2 separate regions of the Homo sapiens genome follow, and region 2 is linked to region 1. The links come from fine-mapping of genetic effects on gene expression. Tissue or cell type: lung. Region 1 holds a variant in brackets; the other region holds the start of a gene. All regions are shown on one strand. Distances are from middle to middle.

Region 1 (6,201 bases):
AGACTCCATCAGAGTTGACTCTAACACAAATTTGGTAAGAGCCCAAGGTCTGGCTGGGCAAGCACCTTGATCGGCTTCATCCTGCAGCCTCTACTAGAATGAACAGCACTTTTTTCTTTACTCATGAAAATGTTTTGTGCTTCGTACCTACAAGTACAGTTTGTGTAAATTCTGCAAAATTTGCCGCATAACTCTTCCTGTATTAGCATTTTTCCTTTGAGAGATTTCTCAAAACATCATCTTTGGACTATGAGGAATTGGAAATTTACTTAGAGTCAAAAGCAAGTACAGGAAAGTCAGTTCTTAGTCAAGAGTTAGGTTTTCAAAGACAGTGGATAAAATAAAAAATCTAGTACAGTCAAGATTATACGTGCAAATCCCCTCATCATTCATAAAGTTTAGCAGTCAGTCTTACCGTGGCTCACCAGGTCCAATCCATACTTCTTCCTCCACGATTGGAGCAGAGGGTGATTTTTTTTATGAGCAACTGATGAAGTCATTTAGAGACCATTTGCAGTAGGAGCCATGTGTACTAGAGACCAATCAATGTGCCCTCATGGCACCATTTCTTCCTCTCTCCCTCTTTGTTCTTGCCAAGTACCCATAGTTCATTTTCCATAGATTAAAAGAGCCCATGTTGGGCTCTATGTAGAATTGTTTGGGAAGTTGTTAAACTGTTTCTCACAGTGGCTAAAGCATTCTAATTCCTACCAGCAGTGTATGAAAGTTCCAGTTTCTCTGCATCCTCACCAACACTTGTTATTTTCTGTATTTTTTTTTTTTGAGACAAAGTCTTGTTCTGTCACCCAGGCAGGAGTGCAGTGGCACAATCTCAGCTCACTGCAACCTCTGCCTCCCAGATTCAAGTTACTCTCCTGCCTCAGCCTCCAGAGTAGCTGGTATTATAGTCACCTGCCACATGCTTGGCTAATTTTTGTATTTTTTAGTAGAGACAGGGTTCCACCATGTTGGCCAGGCTGGTCTCAAACTCCTGGCCTCAGGTGATCCACCTGCCTCGGTCTCCCAAAGTGCTGGGATTACAGGCATTAGCCACCACACCAGGCCAATTTTCTGTATCTTCAATTCTAGCCATCCTTATGGCTATGAAGTGGTATCACATTGTGGTTTTGATTTCTGTTTCCCTGATGATGAATTTCATTGAGCATCTTTTCATGTGCTTATTGGCCACTTGTATGTCTTCCTTGGAGATGTGCCATATTTTCATATTCAAAAATGAAAGCACAGGTCCACACAAAAATTTGTGCATGAATAATTACAATAGCATCACTCCTAATAACCCACAGAGGGAATTAATCCAAATGCCCATCACCAGATGAAGAGATACACCGGTTGTTGTCTACCCACATGGTGGAATATTATTTGATCACAAAAGGAAGGAAAGTACATACGCTACAGCGTGGATGAACCTTCAAAACAGATGAAAGATCACATTCTACATGATTTCATTCAGATGGAAATCTATAGAAATAGGAAGTCGATTAGTGGTTGCTTAGGGCTGCTAGGGGCATGAGAGGATAGGGGGTGTTAGCTAAAGGGTATGAGGTTTCTTTTTGAGGTCATGAAATGTTCTAAAATTGACTGGTAATGTTTGCGTATATCTCTGAATATATTAAAAACCATTGAAATGTAAAAAATGCGAAGAAAAAACAGCCCAAGTTGCAATTTTATTCAACACTTGATTGGCTTTAAAAATAGATTCCAGGCTGGGCACGGTGGCTCACACCTGAAATCCCAGTGCTTTGGGAGGCTGCGGTGGGAGGATTGCTTGAGGCCAGGAGTTCCAGGCCAGCCTTGGCAACATGGCAAGACCCTGTCTCTACAAAAAAATAAAAAATAAATATCAGCTGGGTGCAGTGGCTCACACCTGTAATCCCAGCACTTTGGGAGGCTGAGGCGGGCAGATCACCTGATATCAGTTCAAGACCAGCTTGGCCAACATGGTGAAACCCCTTCTCTACCAAAAATATAAAATTTAGCCTTTTGGTACTCTGAGCAGCACCATGGCGGTTGTTAAGAACAAGTGCCTTATGAAAGGTGGCAAAAAGGGAGTTAAGAAGAAAGTAATTGGTCCATTCTCTAAGAAAGATCAGTATGATGTGAAAGCACCTGCTATGTTCAATATAAGAAATATTGGAAAGACTTGGTCACCAGGACCCAAGGAACCCAAATTGCATCTGATGGTCTCAAGGGTCTTGTGTTTGAAATGAGTCTTGCAGATTTGCAGAATGATGAAGTTGCATTTAGAAAATTCAAGCTGATTACTGAAGATGTTCAGGGCAAAAATTGCCTGACTAACTTCTATGGCATGGGTCTTACCTGTGACAAAATATGTTCCAAGGTTGAAAAATGTTCAACAATGATCGAAGCTCATGTTGATGTCAAGACTACCGATGGTTACTTCTTTCTTATGTTTTGTGTTGGTTTTACTAAAAAACACAACAATCTGATACTGAAGACCTCTTATGCTTAGCACCAACAGTCTGCCAAATCCAGAAGAAGATGATGGAAATCATGACCTGAGAGGTGCAGACAAATGACTTGAAAGAAGTGGTTAATAAATTGATTCCAGACAACATTGGAAAAGATGTAGAAAAGGCTTGCCAATTTATCCTCTCCATGATGTCTTCATTAGAAAAATAAAAATGCTGGAGAACCCTGGGTTTGAAAGGCATGGAGCTTCGTGGTGATGGTAGTAGTTCTGGAAAACCCACTAGGGACGAGACACATGCTAAAGTTGAATGAGCTGATGGATATGAACCACCAGTCCAAGAATCTGTTTAAAGTTCAGGCTTAAAACAGTAGCAAATAAGAAGTCCTATTTGTGAAAAACAATCAAGAAACAACAATGAAAGAGCAAAATTAGCCTGGTGTGGTGGTGCATGCCTGTAATCCTAGCTACTCCGGAGGCTGAGGCATGAGAATTACTTGAACCCGAGAACAGATGTTGCAGTGAGCCAAGATTACACCATTGCACTCCAGCCTGGGCAACAGAGTGAGACTCTCTCCAAAAAGAAGGAAAAAAAAAGTATCTGGGCTGGTGGCATGCGCCTTTAGTCTCAGCTACTCTGAAGGCTGAGATGGGAGGATGGCTTGAGGCCAGGAGTAATTTGAGGCTGCAGTGAGCTATGATTGTGACACTGCACTCTAGCCTGGACTACAGAGCAAGACCCTGTCTCTTATACATACATACATGCATACATACATACATACATGCATACATACATACACACACACGCGCACATACATACATACCCAGGCTCTACCTCCGGTGATTCTGACTCAGTAGGGTGGAGTATCCCCTAGGGATCCTGCTATTCAGCCTGGTCTGGGATCCACTTTTCACTGGGAACTGAGACACTGGCTGTGAGCCTTTCTGTCCTGTGATGTAGAGGTCATGGCGATGCAGGTTCAAGCTTAAGAAGACCTGACTGTGCATTAGGTATTGTGCTGAACATCATCTCTTACTCTCACAGCAACATCCTTAGAAGGTTAATGATGTGTCCCCGCTCTACAGATGAGGAACTGAGCTTTCAGAGGAGTTTAGCTTGTTCAAAACTTATTCTTCGTATTGGAAACTTTGTAC[C/T]CTTTGAGCAGTGTCTCCTATCCCCTACCTTTCCTCCACCCCAGCCCCTGATAACCACTGTCCTACTCTCTATTTCTGTGAGTTCAACTTCTTTAGATTCCACATATAATAAAATCATGCAGTATCTGTCTTTCTGTGCCTGGCTTATTTCACTTAACACAATGTCTTTCAAGTTCATCTATGTTGTTGAAAATGACAGGATTTCTTTCTTTTTTAAGAGTTAATAGTATTCCGTTGTGTGTATATAGTACATTTTCTTTATCCTTTCATCCACTGATGGACACTTAGGTTGATTCTATATCTTGGGTATTGTGAATAGTGCTGCAGTGAACATAGGAATGTAGGGATCCCTTCGACATATTGATTTCGATTTTTTTTTGTCTATACCCAGAAGTTGGGTTGCTGGATTATGTGTTTTGAAATCTATAGCACAGCAGCGTGACTATAGTCAATAATAATGTATCTTTCAAAATAACTAAGAGACTACATTTCAAATGTCTCATCATAAAAATTGTCAGTAAATTAGTGGATGGACATGTTAATTAGTTTGATCTAATCATCCCACATTGTATACACATATCAAAACATCACATAAATGTGTACAATTATGATTTGTCAATTAAAATAACGTTAGTTAAAAAAATAAGTAACTTGTTCAAAGCCCCAGTTGGGATTGATGGAGCCGGGACATGCACCAAGGCTTTTGCTCTCAGGCACACAGAGTCCTTGGGCCACGAATGTTGAAGCCCTACCTGAGATTTCTACTGAGATCAGTGTAGGGATTCAATGTCTCAGAATCATCCCATCCTCCAGGGCCCACAAGTCCATGACCTTTGCCTCTACCCCCGACCCTGCTGACCTGAAATGTGGCCCCTGCTTTCATTTCCGGGAGCATACAACACTTACACCAAGCATTGATGGGTTTTATTGACTTCATTTGAGACGTGGAGCCATGGAGAGGGTCCCATGATCCTTGCTTGGTGTTGGCCAATTCACTGAATTCTCTCTTTGACTTCACCCTTCCCTTTTCTACTCACCTCCTCTGTCATGGATTGCTCGGGGAATTCTGAGCCCTAGTTCCTTTGTTTTGCAGATAACCTTCACTCGTCTCTGCAACGAATCCCAAAAGTATGTAGTTGAGGTGACTGCAAGGTGCTTGACACGCAAGAGACTCCACAAATGGGATTCGGCCTCTGGAAAGTGGTGGTACTTCCAGATTTATGTGGATGTTACTTTGTTTTTCCCTATAAAATATATTCTTTAAACTATCAAGCTCTTGGCTCCTGGCTGCAGTCCTTTGCTGGTGGCAGTGGGCTGGGTACTGTCACCGGGGAGAAATGCTGCCCACTTAGAGAAAGAGAAACTGGTTCTCTTTAAGAGGCAGACGGAGGTTTCCAGTGCCAGTTTGTTTGGAGGCAAAATGGCTGTTGTATTAAAATTGCCCAAACTTGGGCTGGTGCCTTGTGTGTTTAGAGCTCAAAGCCATGATTGTTTTCATTTTTTTTTTTTTTTTTTTTTTTTTTTGGTGGTCGGTTTTCCATCCTTTTGCTTGGTAGGTTTCTGCTAATAGCTTCGACCTCAAGAGTCCCATTATACAGACACTAATAGCACCTACTATGTGTCAGTCTGTAGTGCCTACTATGTGCCAGGCATTGGAGATAATATAATGATGAACAAGATAAACATGGCACTTGGAAAAGAGAGTCTAGTTCCCACTCTCAGCCCACCCCAAAGAGAGGCCAGAATTGGGCTTCCAAAGATCTCAGATGCCCTTGCATCATCTCCATGAAGAGGGTGGGTGAAGCTTTGGTGTCTGAAGAGAATTTGGCTGGACAATCCCCAAGGGTTGGAATGATGGGAAGGAGCTGCCATCTGTGTTTAAGGTGAGAAGAGGGGAGTGGCTGGATATCAGAGGAAGCCAAGATGAAGAGAAGGTTTTTGTGAGTTCCTATGCATAGTGGAGACCTGTTACAGTGAGGGTCCCTGGGGCTGAGCCTGTGGGTCAGTGGAATGATGCTGTGAGGAGGGTCTTGTTATAGCAGATGGCCCAAAAAAGGCTGATGGATCATGAGCAGCTGGAAGAATGGAGAGTTCGGGGGAAGTAGTTCCTACCTGGCTTTCCAACAGTGTGTAAGCCCAGAATTCTTACATAAGCCCATGGAGAAGGGAAAGCAATGCTGGTAACGACAAGATTGAATTCTCCACCTGCCAGGCATCCAGGGACTCAGAGCAGATTTAAGTGAAGTTACAGAAATAGGAATGTGACATTTCCTACATCCGGATGTGCTGGAGCAAAATGTATTCCCTCTCTGGTTTGTGGGGAAGGAGAATGCTAACAGACAAGACTCCAGGTTTTCGCTCTTAAACCTGATGCCTAGAAATGCATTTTCTACTGGATGCAGACAGAAGCTCCATATAGACATATCCATTGCTGCATCGCTCATGCCTTGTGTTCTCCCTAATTTTCCCTTTTTAAACCACAGAGGAAGAAAATTCCAGCATCACTTCTGGCCTCTCAAGAGTGAGTTAGGTGGCCAGGTGGGGTTATTCTTGCCTGTAATCTCATAATGAAGGGGTGGCCTGCCCCTCCACACCTG
Region 2 (4,087 bases), 79 kb before region 1:
TGGGGATGTGACTGTGCACTGTTGCAACCTGGATGGGTTGGTGGAGGTGCTGGCCCTGCTCAGATCTCTGTCCCGCAGGTCACCCTGGTGTGTTTATCTGGGCCACCCTATCAGCCTCTTAGATAGTCTCCAGGCTCCCCAAGAGCAGCTCCATAAACCACCTAAAAAAAAAAATCCTTTCTGGAGAGAGGAGGTGTATCAGTCAGGGTTTAGTGCCTCCAGGGCTGTTTTTTGTTTTTTTTGTTTTTTGTTTGTTTGTTTGTTTGAGAGGTCTCACTCTGTCACCCACGCTGGAATGCAGTGGCACAATCTCAGCTCACTGCAGCCTCATCCTCCTGGGCTCAAGCAATTCTCCCACCTCAGCCTCCTGAGTAGCTGGGGCTACAGGTGTCCACCATCACACCAGGCTAGTTTTTGTATTTTTTGTAGAGATGGGTTGGGGGGGGGGGTTTGTCTCACTTTGTTGAGGCTGGTCTTGAACTCCTGAGCTCAAGTGATCCTCCTTGGCCAGCCAAAGTGCTGGGATTGCAGGCGTGAGCCACAGCGCCCGACCCTCTCCAGGTGTTTTGAGTAGGAGACATTGAGTGCAGGGAATTGGTGGTACAGCACAGGTGATGGAAGAGCCCAGGATGGGCAACCATAGCAACCGCCACAACCCCCAGGCCCAGAGGAACAAGGGGAGGAAGAGATTGCACCAGGCCCCAGAAGTTTGGGGTCCCTCAGGGAAATTGAGAAGCTCGGGGGGCCCACTCCCAGCACTTTGGGGGCTAAGGCGGGTACATCACTTGAGGTCAGGAGTTCGAGACCAGCCTGGGCCAATATGGTGAAACCCCATCTCTACTAAAAATACAAAAATCAGCTGGGTGTAGGGGCACACGCCTGTAATTCCAGCTACTCACAAGGCTGAGTCAGGAGAATTGCACTTTCTCATCATACTGTGTAATGATGCTGGTGTCTGCCATCTGAGAACGGCCCCCGCCATAGCCATACTCTCCCACCTCCTCCCTGCCCCTGCGCCTCGGGCCCTGCCCTCTCTTCGGCTCCTTTCCTGTCTCCCACTTCCAGCCACCCACCTGCATGAATCCACCTGTCTGTTCCCCACATCTGCACTTGGGCATCGTCACCTGGAGAAAGTTCTACCTCCTGGAAGCCTGAAGCCACTGCAGATTCACGCCTCCCCCCACCTTCCCAGCAATCCTTGCGGGGTGGGAGGTGTTTGTCATCCAGTCACTCATGCACCCATCCAGTCACAAGTATTGATCACTCAGTAGGTGCCCAATGCCATCCTCTGCATTTGGGAGAGGATGTACCTAAAGAGCAGTGGGTGGAGGGGGGTGCACAGGGAGGGCATGGAAAACCAGAAGGGAAGTGAAGGGACTGCATTCTCTGCAGGGATGGTCTCTTGTTCTGAGAGCTGAGTGGGAAGGAAGCCACCTGGGAGGCGCAGCAGGAAGAGCATTCAAACCAGAAGGAACCCAGGGGAGAGAATCTGGATATTTTCAAAAGTGGCCCCGTGGCTCCAGCCAGGTCGGTGGTAGCCAGTGCTTTGGAGTGTCGGCCCCACCACAGGCTCCCGCTGCAGCCCGGGATCCAGTGCCCAGCAGGATGGGGGCAGGTGGCTCTGGGCCCCACTACATGGTTGTGGCAGGGTCCCCCATGTAGTTCAGTGGGGATCACAATCTCCACCTCCCAGGACCCACTCAAGCTCCCATTTGCACAGCCCAAACTGGAGCAGGATGGGGACATGGGAGGTGGGCTCTGGCTGTAGCGTCCGGTGGTGGGAGGTGGGGTCCAGGTGGTGACGCTACTGTCCCTGCAGTGCTCTTTGATGAGCTGTAACAGCAGGCTTGGAGGTGGGGCTGGGGACGACCCAGGCAACCCTGAGGGGAGCTTAAGGGAGCCAGGCAACCCTGGCACTTTTCCAAGGCTTTGCATTAACTCAATAGTTCCGCCATGGCCCCGGGGGTAGTGCCATGTATTTCTGTTTTACCGTCGAGGAAACGGAGGAAACCGAGGCACAAAGAAATGGAGTTAATTCCTAAAGTCACAGGGCCAGGAGGTGGCTGAGTGGGGATTCGAACTCACACCCCAGAGGGCACACACAGGCAGGCCCCTGCACACACGCGCGCGCGCGCGCGCACACACACATACACACACACGTGTCCTGGAGGAGGCGGCCCGCAGGGCGGGACAGGGCGGGGCGGGGGCAGGTCCCGGCCGCCGGGAGGAAGTGGCCGGGCGGTCGCAGGGACTCCGGGGCGACCGCCGCGAGTCCGCAGTAGTTCGGGCCATGGAGGCGGAGCCGCCGCTCTACCCGATGGCGGGGGCTGCGGGGCCGCAGGGCGACGAGGACCTGCTCGGGGTCCCGGACGGGCCCGAGGCCCCGGTGAGCGGGGACCCGGAGTGCGAGGCGCGGGCGTCCCCTGTGGGCCAGGGTCCCCCCGGCGGGGGCGGGGCGGGCCGGGGGGCGGCGGGCACCGGGGGACACGGGTTCGGGGCGCGATCGCGGGTGCGAGCGGCGTGCGTGGCTCGCAGCTGGACGAGCTGGTGGGCGCGTACCCCAACTACAACGAGGAGGAGGAGGAGCGCCGCTACTACCGCCGCAAGCGCCTGGGCGTGCTCAAGAACGTGCTGGCTGCCAGCGCCGGGGGCATGCTCACCTACGGCGTCTACCTGGGTAGGTGCCGCTCGGGGACCCGGGGCCGCCCCGCCCGCTCCCAGCCCGGCCCGGGAAACAGAAACCGCGGGCCGCCGCCTCCCGCCCGCTCTCACTTCCCCTCCGCTGCCCTCGCAGCTGCAGCCACGGCCCCCCGCGGCGGGGGTGGGGTTGGGGGGTCAAGTAGCGCAGCGTCCCCGGGTCCCAGCCAGAGCCTCGGTGTGGGTGGGGGACGGGGGTCCGGGCTCCCGGACAGACCTGCCACCGTCAGAATTGGAGGCCGGCGGAGCAAGGCGGGTGGGGGTCTGGGCTTAGCTGGCCAAGTGGCCGCGGGCTGGCAGAAGGCGTGGCGCAGCCCGGGAACCCCGCTGTCCTGAGGGGCGCTGTCAGCGGGAATGCCTTCGGTGATTGGAGCTCCCTGCGAGGCCTGCATGCCGTCTTCTGCTCGGTGGCGCCCAAAGCTAGGCTGCTCCCTGCACGCCGCTCTCTGTCCTGTCCCCAGGCCTCCTGCAGATGCAGCTGATCCTGCACTACGACGAGACCTACCGCGAGGTGAAGTATGGCAACATGGGGCTGCCCGACATCGACAGCAAAATGCTGATGGGCATCAACGTGACTCCCATCGCCGCCCTGCTCTACACACCTGTGCTCATCAGGTGGGCGCGGCTGCTCCTGTGGGATGCTGCGGTACTCCCATTTCGGAGGGGTACAGAGGCCGGCGGGCCAGGAGGTGTCCATCTGCCGGGGTGTTTGTGGGGCGAGGGAACAAGGGAGAGGTTTTTTTCTACCCGGAAGCCTGAGAGTGAAGGGGGTGAAACTCGGATTTGGGGAAGGAAACAGGAACTTTGCCTCAGGGCACATTTGGTTTCCAGCAACAGATTCACACGGGCTGAGCTCCCTCCCAGCTTGCCTGGGCCTCACGTGGCACCCTCCTCGTGGCCTCCTTGGAGGCCTCCCAGAGCCACTGTGGCCTTCAGGGTTGGGGCTGTAGAGTTAGGGGTTTCTGATCGGTCAGCAAAGTCCAGGCACCCATGCCTGGCCCAGTCGCTGTGACTGGTGCTGAGGGGGTGTTTCTCACAGACAGGCATGGCTGGGCAGGTGCCCCAGAGCTCTCCCCCAGATCTGAGCCCTGGAGGTATGTGGTTCAGCCTCCCCATCACCGGTCCACAGTGCCCTCCCTGATGGGACCTGGAGACCAGTGGACAAATTAGGTGAATTTGAGCTCCCTCATCTTTAAAACAAACAAACAAACAAAACAACAAGAGAAAACTCCATTTAAACAAAAATTTGAAAATTTAAAACATCTCCCGTTGCACAGGCAGGATTAGAATAACTGAAATCATAAAAAAGAAACCCCATCTAAGCCCTCCAGGAAATCGGCTACCCATGCTGTCCCACCAGCATGCATGGATTACATTCACATCCTTGTCC

The links. PIP is the estimated chance that this variant, and not a neighbour inherited with it, causes the effect. A credible set is the group of variants that fine-mapping cannot tell apart.
Region 2: UNC93B1 starts here. The variant in region 1 is the best candidate, but not a certain one, in a credible set for the expression of UNC93B1 in lung (TOPMed, PIP 0.61).

Annotation. Positions count from the first base shown.
Region 1 is chr11:67,922,252-67,928,452 of GRCh38, reverse strand. All of the region lies in intron 3 of LOC112268076 (translation initiation factor IF-2-like), which reads left to right. It also overlaps the pseudogene RPS3AP40. Among named protein-coding and RNA genes, the nearest start is that of LINC02754, 41 kb to the right of the region's middle. The variant C/T (reference allele first, on the strand shown) is at 3,605.
Region 2 is chr11:68,002,247-68,006,333 of GRCh38, reverse strand. It overlaps UNC93B1 (unc-93B1 regulator of TLR signaling), which reads left to right and starts at 2,237. Exons shown (of 11, transcript NM_030930.4): 1 at 2,237-2,386; 2 at 2,536-2,677; 3 at 3,159-3,312. The coding sequence starts at 2,291. RefSeq lists enhancers at 1,194-1,736, 1,737-2,280, 3,185-3,234, 3,335-3,384, 3,485-3,684 and silencers at 2,115-2,414, 2,475-2,884.